Homo sapiens: one gene and its partner. The protein of the gene in region 2 interacts with the protein of the main gene of each other region in a pairwise test. Each region holds a gene or a part of one and is shown on either strand. Other genes may lie near its edges.

Region 1 (8,071 bases), on a different chromosome or scaffold from region 2:
TCAGCAGCAAAAGTGAAGAATAAGAATGAAAGGTGAAAAGCTGGTGGATGCCATGCAGAGCGAGGACTTCCATAAAGGTCTGTGCCCTGCGGCCAAACACAGTCAACACACCACCATTTTCTTGTTGCTCTTAAATGAGCAAAACCAAATTTCTTTTTTATTTAATGAAATATTAAATCTTTATTTCCCCCTAACATAATTTGTGATCAAGTAGGACAGAGGTAAGTCCCACCATCACTGGGGACAGTAGCAACACACAGACTTCAGAAACAGCCTTGAATCATCAGTAACATCCTCCCCTGGTAACGTTAGAAGGAATGCATCTAATGACAAATTTGCAATGTTGTCACATTGTTCTAATTTATTTGATTAGTTTATCTGGAAAAACTTTACACATTATTGAAGACAACAGTAAATTATTTTCTTGCTCTGAAAAAATAATGTTTTTTCACATTTTAAAACCTTTTAGTATGCTTTTGCAAAAGTAGTTGCAAGAATATGACAGCTGGGTTTGCAGAATGTCCATGTACAAGTTTGTATTTATAAGAAACTGGTAATCTGCCTATAATTTGCCTCTACAAATAGAGCTCTTTAAAATAATATTTTTAAAAAAACAGGCTTAAACTTTTCCCTATTCATTCTACTTGTAGCAAAGAGGTACTTACTTTTCAAGTATTACATGGTAAAAGGCACAAGTTTTTTTTGCCAATTTTAAGCTGTTAAGCTTTAAGACCAAACTATGTGAAAAAAAATCATGCCTAGTCAATCCTAGTCAATCATTTTATAGCCAAATCCTCTTGTCTTTTAAATAACGCAGAAAAATACTAATTTGCTAAGAAGGAGCACACTGGAAAAAGCCATTTGAAAGTACTGAAGAATGAGGAGTATTTTTTTTCTACTGATGAAAATTATTAGGAAAGCTATCCTGTCTGTTGTCTTTAGCTAGTTTAAATAAATCTTTTCAAAATGATGGTCAAGAAATCTTTAGAAAACTGGAAGAGGGGATGCTCTTTTATAGCATGAAAGGAATTCCATTAATTATAGAAATTCTCGTTAAATTTTGACGTTGGTTCTTCAGAAAAAATACGCATTTAACTTCTGCAGTCTGTTGTGTTTGAACACCATCTACCTGAGCCAGGGGCCCAAGCGTTCCTTCATCATCAAAGGCCAAAACTGGATTCAAAGGAACTTCTGGGCTCTTACTGTTAGTGACATCTAATCTGGATGGTTTCGATCCAATGGGTAAATTTATAATTTCTTCAAAATTTTCATTCTGAACAGAGATACTCCATTTTCATTTGGTTTTCCAAATTGGGGGTGCTCTCCACAGTCACTTTTGATTGGTGTGAGGTAACCACATATGGGCTGGCAACTGGTTCTCCATTTCCCAGAGCATTTGTTGTACACGGAAGTATAGATAGCTCTGTTCCTCCAGTGAGAGCTCCCTTGGCTATATCACCATTTCTCTGATCAATGGTTTTCTTATCTGTAGCTTCTGTTCTCCTGCTTCAGGGCTGTTTCTTATAGCAACCCTCATATTGTTCACCAAAGCACAATGCAGTCATATCATCTGAGGACCCGGATCCAGGTGGGAATGGGAAGGTAAAGGACCACAGCTCTCAGGGGGTCTGCCTTAACCCAAAGGTAGATTTCAGTTTACAGATTAACTTCAAATGCACTAGTAAGTTTACTTATTATGTTTACTGCCTCCCCTTGCTGGAATGCAAGATCCATGAAGGCAGGGATTCTTTTCTGCTTTGTCATCATGTGACTCAAATTCCTCGAACAGTGCCTGGCACATACTAGCAGTTCTTTTTCTTTTTTTTTTGTTTTTGAGACAGAGTCTAGCTCTGTCGCCCAGGCTAGAGTGCAGTGGCACAATCTCGGCAACCTCCGTCTCCTGGGTTCAAGCAATTCTCCTGCCTCAGCCTCCCGAGTAGCTGGGACTACAGGGAGCACCACCACGCCCAGCTAATTTTTTTTTTAGTAGAGACAGGGTTTCACCATGTTGGCCAGGATGGTCTCAATCTCTTGATCTCATGATCCGCCTGCCTCGGACTCCCAAAGTGCTGGGATTACAGGTGTGAGCCACTGTGCCTGGCCAATATTTAATGAATGAATCAGGTTAACAAAAATTAAAAGTTGACAATATCGGCCGGGTGCAGTGGCTCACACCTATAATCCCAGCACTTTGGGAGGCCAAGGCAGTGGTGCACGCCTGTAATCCCAGCTACTCTGGAGGCCGAGGCAGGAGAATTGCTTGCACCCGGGAGGCAGAGGTTGCAGTGAGCAGAGATCACGCCACTGCACTCCAGCCTGGGTGACAGAGCAAGACTCCGTCTCAAAAAAAAAAGAGACTCACCATCAGAGAAATGCAAATCAAAACCACAATGAGATACCATCTCACACCAGTTAGAATGGCGATCATTAAAAAGTCAGGAAACAACAGGTGCTGGAGAGGATGTGGAGAAATAGGAACACTTTTACACTGTTGGTGGGACTGTAAACTAGTTCAACCATTATGGAAGACAATGTGGTGATTCCTCAAGGATCTAGAACTAGAAATACCATTTGACCCAGCCATCCCATTACTGGGTATATACCCAAAGGATTATAAACCATGCTGCTATAAAGACACATGCACACGTATGTTTATTATGGCACTATTCACAATAGCAAAGACTTGGAACCAACCCAAGTGTCCATCAATGATAGACTGGATTAAGAAAATGTGGCACATATACACCATGGAATACTATGCAGCCATAAAAAGGGATGAGTTCATGTCCTTTGTAGGGACATGGATGAAGCTGGAAACCATCATTCTCAGCAAACTATCGTAAGAACAAAAAACCAAACACCGCATGTTCTCACTCATAGGTGGGAACTGAACAATGAGAACACTTGGACACAGGAAGGGGAACATCACACACCAGGGCCTGTTGTGGGGTGGGGGGAGGGGGGAGGGAAAGCATTAGGAGATATACCTAATGTAAATGACGAGTTAATGGGTGCAGCACACCAACATGGCACATGTATACATATGTAACAAACCTGCATGTTGTGCACAGGTACCCTAGAACTTAAAGTATAATAATAAAAAATAAAAAATAAAAAGAGACTCCATCTCAAAAAAAAAAAGCAATGTGGCAATGTCTAGTAAAATTGAGAATGTACCCAGTAATTTTTCTAGTTAAATAACCTACAGAAATTCTAAGGCAGGTGCCAAAGGAGACACCTAAAAGCTTTTCACTACAGCAATGTTTGTAATAGCAAAAAATACTATAAATAATTTAAATGTGCATCTCTGTAAGAATGAATAAATATACTAAGTAAAATGGATGCATAAAATAGACTATTATAAAAATTAATGAGAATAAACTAAATTCTTATATTGGCATGAATAGTTCTAAAAAACAATGTAAGCAAAATGCAAAATAAAATGCAGGAATTTTATTAATGTAAAAATTTAAAATACTACTGTATATTGTTCAAGGATATCTATTAATATATTTGAATGTAAAAGTATAAAAAAAAGTAGTTGTCCATGGAGAAGTAAAAGGATGTAAGACAGGAAATGAACAAAGCAGACAGATAAACAAAACAAAGAGGGAAAAAGAGACCAGCAAGATTTTCCCTGACATTAAATACTAAAATAAAATACTTATGTCTGTATGTGGCTCAATATTGGCAGGGTAAAGTTTAAAGCTTTTTATTCTCAAGTTGATTGTAATCGTTGAGAGAACAAAGGAACACACTGGTGAGTTTAAAGCTTGGGCCTCTACCTGGCATGAGTAGCTGCTTTCCGCACCAAATCCAGAACATCTGTACTGGGGGTGTCTGACACTTGCGTGCTCTCTCTCATTCTGACCCCTTCTTTCCCCTTACATATCATTTTTTTTCCTTTCTTCCTTCCCTTGGGTCTCTTACCACAAAAGCTCCGCACCAGACTGGGGTTCTGACACTAACTTGGCATGTGATTCTGGGCTGCCACCTCACCATTCTGAACCTCAGTGTTGTCCCCTCTAAACCTGGGAGAACACCCATCCTGCCTGGAGGCAAGTATGGCTCGCTGTCAGTTCTCCTTTCTGCTGTTTCTCTATTCCAGCATCATCTCCAGCAGACTACAGGCATACAGAGCCTCCGCCTTAATCTCACCTCTGCTCTTTGTCTCTGCTTCAGCTCCTGCTGGGCTGATTTCTGTTTGGCCTTCTCAACTCTGCTGACAGATTCTTTAACTTTGGTTTTTTCTTTACGTGCAGGTGGATCCATGGCTTGACTTCTGGATATTTCTTAGGAGGCTCTGATCTGGGTGGTACAGAAAGAGGCAGATCTTCAAAACAAAACAAAACAAAAAATACCCTGCCAGTTACTCCTCTAATCCTTTAGCTCCGCCCCATCCTTTGCCAGGTGAGGCAGAGTGGTCTGGTGGCAAGGGCGCTGGATGTGGGGGAGTAGGAACCGAGTCCCAAGGCCACAACCTCGCTGGGTGTCCCTGGGCAAGTCTCCTCCCCACTTTGAGCCTTAGTTTTCTGTCTGCAAAATGGGTTAAGTGTTTTCCTGGCCTCCCTCCAGGAGCTGCTGTGTGCGGGTGAAATGCAAAGACCCCTGTGAAAGCGTTGCCCACTGTGCGGCGTGCGGCACCCAGCGCGGAACCGTCCTAATGGGACGCTGAGACCCAGAGGGCGCCCAGGGTTTTCCCACTGCGGCCGGCCTAACTCCGCCGCAGCAGCCGCTCCTGGGGCCAGGGGGCCGGGCCCCATAGCCAGCCGGGCCCGCCCCCCACCGCCCGGCCCCCCGACCCCGCCCCGGCCCGCCCGGCCCCAGGGGACGGCCCCCGCCTCCTGCCCTCTTCCCTCTCCTGGAGGAAAATGGCGGTCGCTGGAGCCGCCGACCAAGAGGCTTGGGAGTCTGTACCTTTCCCGACCGGGCCACTGGAAGTTGGAGCCTCCGCCGAGTCGCAGACAACGCCTCCGGGAGGGTAATCCTCGCCTTCCCCCGACCACTGGACCCAGCGCTGCCTGCCCACCGCCCCTCGTCCTGGGCGGGGCCGCGCGCCGGGGGGAGGGGCGCAGGGCCGAGCGCCAGGAGGCTTCCGCCCGCAGGAGCGGCCGCGCGTGCGCAGAGAGGATGGCTGGAAACCCGCGTAGAGGGCGGGGCGGGGCAAGCCGGTGCCGGGGCGGGGCAGGGGCGGAGCCACACCGGGGTGGGTGGTGGTTACGGCTAACCAAAGCTTTTTCCCGTTATATTTTCTGCAACAGCTACTAGGTTTTAGAGGGTGAGATCCGAATCCTGGAATTGGAATTGCTCAGAATTCGAATTCCGAGGCTCAATTTCTTAATTCGAAAAGTGGGGATTGATGATTGCCACCTTCTTCATTCATGAGTTTATTGGGAGGATCAAGTGAGATCCCGTTTGCCACAGTGCTTTGAAAAAGGAAATCTTGACAGAAGTACCAATAGCCAGTATAAATACAGAGAACATTCACGTTCAACTGATTACCGAGGAGATGTAAATTAAAATAGCTGGCTGTAATTTTCCAGGTATTACATTAGCAAGGATTGACAAAAATGATAATAGCTACCTTACATTTGGGCTTACTATATTCCAGGCACTGTTCTTACAGCTTCACATTTATTAACTAATTCCTCATAATAAGTGTGTATAATGTATACGTGTATATTATTATCCCCATTTACACATAAGGGAACAGAAGCATTGAAAAGTTAAGTGAGTTGTCCCGGGTCACACAGCTTCTAAGTGCTGGAGCAAATATTTCAGCCAGGATTCATAGGACAATGGCCTTATCCAAAGTAAAACCCTGTTTGGGTCCACTATTTGTTCCTCTATCAAACTGGCAAGAATTGAAACAACTGATAGATGCTAAGCAAGCAATGAACTCAGCCCAGATGGACACACGCTTCCAGTCAAACTGTAAATCGTTAACAGCCTTTCTGGAGGTCAGTTTAGTACTAGGTATCAAAAGCCTTAAAAGTGAGCACAATGCCCCAAAAAGACAAATACTGCATGTTTCCATTCATATGAAGTATCTAAAGCAATCAAAGTCTAAGAAACAGAAAGTAGAATGGTGACTGCCAGTGGCTAGGAGAGAGGGAAAAGAGGAATTGTTTAAAGGGTATAGAATTTTAGGTTTGTAAGGTGAAAAAGTTCTAGAGATCTACTGCACAATGTTTATTTTTTATTTATTTAATTTTTAAAAAATAGATGGGGTCTTGCTCTGTCACCCAGGCTGGAGTGCAGTGGTGTGATCATAACTCACTGTAACCTGGGCTCAAGCAATCCTCCCACCTCAGCCTCCAAAGTATCTGGGACTACAGGCACACACCATCATGCCTGGCTAATTTTTTAAAATTTTTTTGTAGAGATGGAGTCTCACTGTGTTTCCCAGGGTGATCTGGAAATCCTGGGCTCAAGTGATCCTCCTGCCTCAGTCTCCCAGAGTGCTGGGATTACAGATGTGAGCAATTGCGCCCAGCTTTTCCAAAATTTCTACAGTAAACGTTTATACTTTAGCAATCAGAGGAAAGTACATTAAATGTCTTTTTAAAAACCCTATACAAATGCTGATTCGATTATTATTAATAAAAGTAACCAAGTCAGAGTCTATTTCAGAAATCTTGATGTAGTACTGGTATTTTACATTTGTGTCACATGGTATGGTTTATAACGTTCATATAAGCTATGAACTAGATTACAGCTGAAGACACGGCAGGACCTTTAGAAGCCAGCTAAAAACAAACCAGCTATAGGGAATGGAGGAGTGGAAAAGCCACATGGAAGACTGGAAAAGTAGTGGTGCCACTGAGCCACTGTTGAAAGTGGAGAAGGTGTGATGAGTTGGTTTGGGAAACGGTGAGGAAGAGGATAAGTTAGGAGCGTGTGTGTGTGTGTGTGTGTGTGTGTGTGTGTGTGTGCGCGCGCGCAAGAGAGGGACCGAGAGAGAGAAAGAGCTAGATTACGCTTCAAGTGGCAATAGGCAAGAAGAATTGTCCAGTGAGCAATTAGAAGATTTCAGAAAAGAACGGAACTGGAGATACCAGTTTGGGATTCTACATTCTTTATTGGGAAGGTGAAGGTTGGAGCCAGGAGGGAGTGAATGTTGAGGCTGAACACTGTCAAAGTCCCCTCTCTATTCTTTCCATGAGTTTATGCTTTGTCTGTCTCTTTTGTGTCTACCAGTGGACTCTTGGCCAGGCTGCAGAATTTCCTGGTTTGTTGAATGACTAGCAAGAGTTTATAGTAATATAACTAGAATATTTTTACAGTTGAGGTATATACTACACTAAGATTATATTCACTTTATTGAATAATATTTTTTCTAGAGTCAAAAAATTATCTATTTTTATTTGCTTAATGATCTATGCATCCCTTGTTTATTTTTTATTTTCAGAGGTGGGCTCAAGTGATCCTCCCGCTTCAGCCCCTCAGTGGCTGGTACTACAGATGTGAACCAGGTCATTTACCAGTGTCTTTTTTTTTTTTCTTGGCAGCATCCCTCCTTAGACTCATCCTCTCTTTGCTCCAAACTCCTCTGCTTAGCCTTGCTTCACAGCTCTTGTCCTAGGATTAGGGACCTAACCACATTCTGGGGATTCTCTTCTTGTTTCTCCTGTGCCAAATCCCCTGCTCTCTGGATCTTATGTTTTTCCATTCTTGGTTTATTCTCTCATTTTGGAGGAGTATGTTCTCCACTAACTCCCCAGAAGGGGTTCATGGAAGCTAAATTTTTGAGTCCTTGCTTGTCTAAAAATGGCTTTATTTTCTTTCATCCTTGAGTGACAGATTTCCACATTGGAAATTATTTTCCCTCAGAAGTTTAACGGCATTGATTCATTGTCATCTAGCTTCTCATGTGGCTACTCTTGAGGAGACTGATTTATTCTGACTTGTGTTACTTCCCATATATTTTGTTTGTTAATTTGTTAATTTGTTTAGGATATTTTTCTCCTTTATCCTTGATGTTCTGAACGTTCATAACAAACTGTCCTTTAAGTATTTTTCATTCATTATGCTAAGCACTCGGTGGCCCCTTTCAATTGGGAAACAAAGT
Region 2 (7,231 bases):
CCACCCCAGAGCACTGTGGCAAACACCAAGCACTTTCTGTGCACTGGACAGTGGGTTACATGGCAGTGACACTATGAATAAGACACACACAATCCTTGCTTCATGGAACTCACCCTATTTAGAATCTGTTAGGTTAAAATCCCTGGGGGGTAGGGTCAAAGCATCTCATTTTTAAAATATCCATTGGAAATTCAAATGTGCAGCCAGGGTTAAGAACCACTGCAGCACATGCATGCATACACACACAATACACACACACACACAAACACACAAACACAACACATACAACACACAAACACACACACACAACACACACACACACACCAGAGCAGCATTCTGAATGAGAAGACAAACACGCTAGGTTCTACTCCTAATTCTTTCACTTGCTGGCTAAAGGACTCTGGCTAAGTCACTTAGCCTCTCTAAGTTTTAGCAGTTGTAAAACGGGGTTAATCATCCATGCCATATATATATGTGTATATATATATATACATATATGTATATATATATATACACATATATATACACACACATATATATACACACATATATATATACACATATATATACATATATATATATATATATAAATATATAAATATATAGTGGCTTAGAATGTTACAGTTGGAGATAATGTTAAATTACACATTGTTTCCCCCAAAAGCTATTCTTCAAACACAGTAAGATGATCTTTTAAAAACATACATCTGGACAGGTCACTCTCCTAATTAAAAACCTTAGTGCTTCCCAAAGCTCTTAGGAAAAATAATCCAGTTTGCTATATTGTGGGAACCCTGGCCTTCTTTCAGTTCTCTGAATATACCAAACTCTATTCGTCATGGCTTTCAGACATACTGTTCCTTGTGCAGACTGCTTGTCTCTGCACTGTTCACTTGGCCAAGTGTAGCTCACCTTCGGATGTCTGCTTAAGTGTTGTCTTCTCCAACCCACCATTCTGAACAAGGGCCCCCATCATAGTCTTCCGCTATTCCTGATCATATGTTTATATGCTGTTCATGGATTGAATGTCAGTCTGCCCTTACTCACTTGTGAGCGATTGCTGTTTCCCCAGGGCGAGACACAGGGCCAGGTACATAGGAGCACTTGATAAATACTGATTTAATGCACCCCTATTATGGGTCATGTTCAAGCAGAAGATACCAGATAAGGATATTAAGGAGATTAAAACACTTTCTGAAATGCACAACTAGGTGACCATTAAGGTGTCTTCTCACCTAGAGATTCTATGATGCTCCTTTCTGTATACCCTGAAGGTTTATTTACTGTTAGGATCACCCCACCCCACCCTCCCCACCACCACCAAACACGCACACTTAAGTATGTGGAGAAAGTGGCAGTGTCTACACTTCAGTCTTGATGAGATCAGACAGCAAACAGCAGGGGCAGGCTCACCAGCAGCAAGAACCAGGAAGGTTCTTGAGACATTTCATCTTGCCTGAGGAAGGTGGCAGGACTGTGGGCTGTTTTACAAGAAAACCACGCTGGTGGAAGAAAGCAAAGATCCTGAGAACAAGCTCAGTGACCCATAGTGGGGGCTACAAGAAAAGGAGCTCTAAGCTCTTTTCCTTCCCACTTCCTGGGATGCCTGATCTGGGTGGGGCAGTCTTGGAAGAGGAGTTTTAAAAAGAGTTGAAAGATGCATCTGGGAGCTTCCCTGCAGGTGCTCTTATGGTCGTCCAAATAGCAGCCTGCCCAGCAAGCACACCTGCACCTCTCTGAAGGGATTGCTGTGTCAGTGCCCTTCCCTTCAACTGGAGTAGGAAGGTGTAAGGTCTGGTTCAGCCCTAGTGTGGGACAAGGCAGGGAATGCCATCTGGCCCTCTTTCACTCTGGGCACTCGATGTTACCTGGCCTAGGAAGAGCCTCCATATCATAGCATCTTCTTGGTCATCCACCTCTCTGGAGACCTACCTGGGAGGAGGGGTGAGCCCAGGCAAGCACAGTGCTCAGCATCCTGTGTCCCGCCACTGGCTGCCCTCTCTCCCCACTGTACCCCCATCAAAATAAAAATCTATCAGCTTCTCCGTTTAACCCAACTTGTGTCTCACAGCTGGTCTAGTTTAGGATTTGGATACATCTGTGTCCTCCCACTAAACACCATTTCGACATCACATCTTTCACCGACCCAAGATTATTCTCAATAACTGTCCCGTAGAAGGGTCTCCTGGCCCAGCTACATAGGACTCATACCTAGGGAAGCTCTAAGTCAAAGGAGAGTTAACTCACTTTACACACACATTCTAAGACATTCGAGCCACTGGCAGCTTAGAACATAATACAAAACTAGAGTACAAAACTAGAAAAAGGTATTATGCCTCATGGCTCACAGACCTCCCACTGGCAGGGCAGTAGCAGCAGAAAAAAACAAGAAGATTAAAACTTTATTCTATGCCAGGCACCATGTGAAATGTGTACCATGCATCATCTTATTTAATCCTAACAGATTAATTTACAGGTGAGGAACTGAGGCCCAGATGTTGAAACATCTCACCTGAGTATCAGTGCTGGTAAGTGGCAGCGTCAAGACTGGAATGCAGGAATGCTTGATTCTGTGGCCCATGCTTTTAACCCACATTATACTACAAAGTGAGCTTCCTTGTGAACCCATAATACCCTTGGGGGCTTCCAGGATCACTTAGTAGGGGGCTCTTGCAGGAGGCCAAGAAACCATATTGTGCAGGTGGACAACAAGCCCTTGAAATCAGAGACCTCACAGCTAATGTAATTTCATTTGTTCCCACCAGCTGGTAAACAATGAAGAGATGTGAGTTAGAATAAAATGATTCCTTCCACACACACACACACACACACACACACACACACACACACACAAACACACACATACACACACTCTCTATATCTCTCTCCCCACTTTCTTTCCACCTCTCATAAAGGCAGGCAAAAATGCCCAGATGTTCTTTTCTGTTCTGTAATAGAAGTTATTTAGACATTGTCTTTGACAGTGAAAATTTTTTTTCAAAAACAATCTTAGCATTTTAAACTGAGTTCTTTCTAAAGTAGATTGTGAAACATCAACCTCTGAGTACTTGGTTTACAGGTCTTACTTTGGTGCCATCATCTTTTTTTTTCCTTCAAATACACATCTCTAATACATACATTAAGACAGAAACAACGAACAAAAATCCAAGGTGAATTACAGGCTTTAAGGAATCGTAGATGATGGTCAATTCTACCTGCCAGCCCCCCAGCTACAAGAGCTATACGGTGCTTCTGGTCTTTGACTTCTTAGCAGCCTTTAAGGAAGGAAGCTAACTGGTAACCATGTAGACCTGGCTTTTTCACTCAAATTCAAGTCAACCACTGCCACAAATACAATACCCTTTGAAATAAAAAACTTCATTTAAAAAATGTCATTAAAACGTAAGAGACAGTTTGTCAGAAAGATGACTAAAGGTTGTGTATATATATGAAACATAACTAGGAGACATCATAACTATAAATGATTCTAAAATAAAAGTAAAATAAAAAAATTTGACCTTTCCTTTTTCTCCATGAAAACTCTTTAATTGATTACCTGAGTTTTTTTCCCCCCTCTTTTGGACAAAGGTGAAGAGACAACTTTGGATATGATAACTGAATATTTAACAATGTTTTCATTACAACACACAGGATCAATATAACTCAGTTTTTTGGTACCACGATTATGTAAAGCAAAAAAAAAAAATCCTCATTTAATAATAAGCAGTGGTCCTGAGGGAGATTAAATCAATTAACTATGCAACTGATGATGAAGTGAAGTGAGAGTTTTGTGGTGGAAGAGAGGCCCAGAACCCCCAGGTTGGAACACTCTGTCATGCTCAGCCCCACGGAAGCCTCTTCCTTTCATGAGTCCCTTCCAAGACACGCTGGTCTTCAGCCACCTCTAAGGCATCTTTAGCTTCTCATCCTACTTACAGAGCCTCACATGACCTAGCACAACCTCCAAACCCCCACTAATTCCCTTTCATGAAAATTTGGGTTAGGCTTACCTCTCCGCTTATATCCAAAAATGCTTCCAAATGTCACGAGGGCTGCATAACCAAAACCGATCAGGTCCATTGGCAAGGTTGCAATTCTAAAGCAAGGGGGAAAGGACAAATTATACAAAATAAAAAAGTTTTGGGGAGGGAATGTATCTAAAAATGATACGCTTATATGGTTTGGCTGTGTGTCCCCACCCAAATTTCATGTTGAATTGTGATCCTGAGTGTTGGAGGTGGGGCCTGGTGGGAGGTGACTGGATCACGGGGGTGGCTGCTAATGGTTTAGCAACATCCCCCTAGTGCTGTTCCATGATCTAAAGTTCTCACAAGATCTGGATGTTTGAAAGCGTGTAGCACTTCCCCCTTCACGTGCTCTCCCCCTCCTGTCGCCATGTGAAGACATGCTTGCTTCCCCTTTGCCTTCCACCATGATTATAAGTTTCCTGAGGCTTCTCCAGCCACGCCTCCTGTACAGCCTGCGGAAGTTGAGTTGATTAAACCTCTTTTCTTCATAAATTACCGAGTCTCAGGTAGTTATTTAGAGCAGTGTGAGAATGACTAATACAAAGACATTCCACAGAATTACAGAAATTAATTTCTCTAGTCTACTAAAGAAAGGGAAGTTCGGCCAGGCATGGTGCTCACGCCTGTAATCCTAGTACTTGGGAAGACCAAGGCAGGTAGATGGCTTAAACCCAGGAATTTGAGACCAACCTGATCAACATGGCAAAACCCCATCTCTAGTAAAAATACAAAAAATTAGCTGGGTGTGATGGCATGCACGTGTGATCCCAGCTACTCAGGATGCTGAGTTGGGAGGATTGCTTGAGCCCTGGAGGTTGAGGTTGCAATGAGCCGTGATTGTGCCACTGCACTCCAGCCTGGATGACAGAGTGACACCCTGTCTCAAGGGAAAAAAGAGGTTCAAACTTCACCTCTCCCAACCCTCTACTTTCCCCTTCATCCTCATCACTGTTAAGCACACTCTGGGGGGTACCTCAAGCTGATTCTCCTCTGCCTGTCTTCAAGATCTGCCATACTCTCAGCTGTTCAATTCTTTCCACTTACCCAAATAAAACTTCTGCTCTGGTCAGCCAGGTCTCTTCACTGAACTGTGACACTACAATCTTCACTTTTCACTTCCATGCCTGAAATGTCCTCCCTCCCTGTCCACCTCCAAAAGCCCGACTATCCCCTGTATGCCACCTCCCTTTAAACCTTCTCCCCTGACTTCTACCCTTATTAATTACCTCCTAATTTCCTTGACTCTAGTCTGTACTATCAAAGTGATCTGGAGCAAATGCCTTCTTCCTCCTCTAAATTCCTTAACTTCCACAATTCCATCTTATAATTCTTTCATGTCTGTACAGATATTAGTCCTCTCATTCTTTACAGATGGATGTCTTCTTGGAGATTGACTAATTCAGTTTAAACAATGGCTTTGTCATTAGTTTCCTTGCAAGATAGCTCTTCTGTGGTAGCAGAGACATCCACACTTAATCAATGGCAAATCACTAAAGAATACAATATAGCCCCAGCATGAAGTTAAATGGATGACAATGACATCCTACTGTGCATCATAGCAGCAGCTGAAACATACCCAGTGGTGAGAAGTTCCACTGAAACCCTGCCCACAATTCTCTCAGATGCAGTAGATAGCGTGCCAGCCACAGGCTAGAGATGTGGCCACTGGGCCTCAGACCATGCCCCTCCCTCACCCTCAACTCTCCCTGCAAGTTAGGAGAATAGATGAAAAGAGTTCTGGAGTTCTTTACAGCTTTTTAAGTTCTAAGACCCCTAGTGGTGCCTTTATTTCTGAGCTTTCTCACGTCTATATTTCTTCCACAGGGAAGGTAATTATCTTTGTAAATGTGAGGAATGGTAAGTGAGATTCCTTGCATATTTTTACAATTTTCTCATTGCTTATCATTTAGGTTAATGGGCCTTTTATCTCCCATTATCAATTGGTAATAAATTAATGTAGAACATAAAAAGGGGCCAGGCGAGGTAGCTCACGCCTGTAATCCCAGCACTTTGGAAGGCAGAGGCTGGTGGATCACTTCAGGTCAGGAGTTTGAGACCAGCCCAGTCAACATGGTGAAACCCCTTCTCTACTAAATATACAACAAATTACCCGGACGTGGCATGGTGGTGCATGTCTGTAATCCCAGCTACTCAGGAGGCTGAGACCGGAAAATCCCTTGAACCTGCGAGGCAGAGGTTGCAATCAACTGTGATCGTGCCACTGCACTCCAGCCTGGGCGTCTCAAAAAAAAAAAAAAAAAAAAAGAAGAAGAATTTTGAGCTGATCTCAGAGTCATCCACTAGAACTTACTATGAGGAAGGGTATGGGGGAGGGAAGCTGAGGCACAGGAGATGACAGCACCAAAAAGGAGGCAACACTGAAAAATGCTCATCATCTGCAGGAAGGAGAATTAAAACAGGAGAGCTCATCTGTGGCCGAGAAGTGGTACAGTAGGATGTAGCATGTAGGGAGAACCTGGGTCCAAAAACCATTTGCTGACTGAATGATGGCTAAACAAATAATAATAATAAAGAGGTTATAATGTTTTTGAGCAATTACTATGTGCTAGGTGCCATTCTAAGGCATTCTAGGTGCCTTATGTGTATCAACTCATGTAATCATGACCACACCCTATGGTATGTACTGTCATGATTATCCTCATTTTCCAGATGAGGAAAGTGGCACACAGAGAATGCAAGCAATGCCTGAAGGTTATACAGCAAAACAAAGATCTCTGACTTAGGGAAGTCTCAGTCCTAACCTCTATGCAACATCACCTCTGATAACTGAGTTAGCTGCTGAAAAAAAGCGAACATGTAAACCAAACATGTTCTTCAGAGTTTTCAATTCTGGATCAATCACATGCTCTTCATAGCTTAAAGTTGTGACCACAGGGCACTGTGTTCCATCTGGTAACTTACAATGTTCAGCCCCATGAACTTCTCATGTTTGATCCTACTTATTATCTTTCTAAAGGAGCTAACCATATGCTATAAAGTATGCTTATCTTCAAACCTGATACCACCACTTACTAGCTGTGGAACCTCAATAACTCAGTTTCTCCATCTTTAAAATAGGGATAACAAAAATATCTACCTTATAGGATTGTTCTGAGAATTAAATGATTTAATACTGTAAAGCACTTAGAACAGTGCCTGCACATACTGAGCACTCAACAAATATTAGCTGCTCCAATGATTAC

The links. Proteins that work in one complex are often made in the same cells at the same time.
Region 1: the proteins of TMEM14A (region 2) and ERMAP interact in binary tests that used the Homo sapiens proteins (3 or more experiments, as listed by UniProt).

What each region holds. Positions count from the first base shown.
Region 1 is NC_000001.11:42,812,273-42,820,343, forward strand, and holds the start of ERMAP (erythroid membrane-associated protein precursor), read left to right. Parts: upstream 1-4,849; 5' UTR 4,850-4,981; exon of another isoform or gene 4,982-5,125; intron 5,126-5,261; exon of another isoform or gene 5,262-5,543; intron 5,544-8,071. Other genes in the region: SVBP (small vasohibin-binding protein), read right to left, coding at 4,159-4,272. UniProt on the Homo sapiens protein: Possible role as a cell-adhesion or receptor molecule of erythroid cells.
Region 2 is NC_000006.12:52,673,952-52,681,182, reverse strand, and holds part of TMEM14A (transmembrane protein 14A), read right to left. Parts: intron 4,097-7,231; 5' UTR 4,081-4,096; coding exon 4,011-4,080; intron 1-4,010. UniProt on the Homo sapiens protein: Inhibits apoptosis via negative regulation of the mitochondrial outer membrane permeabilization involved in apoptotic signaling pathway.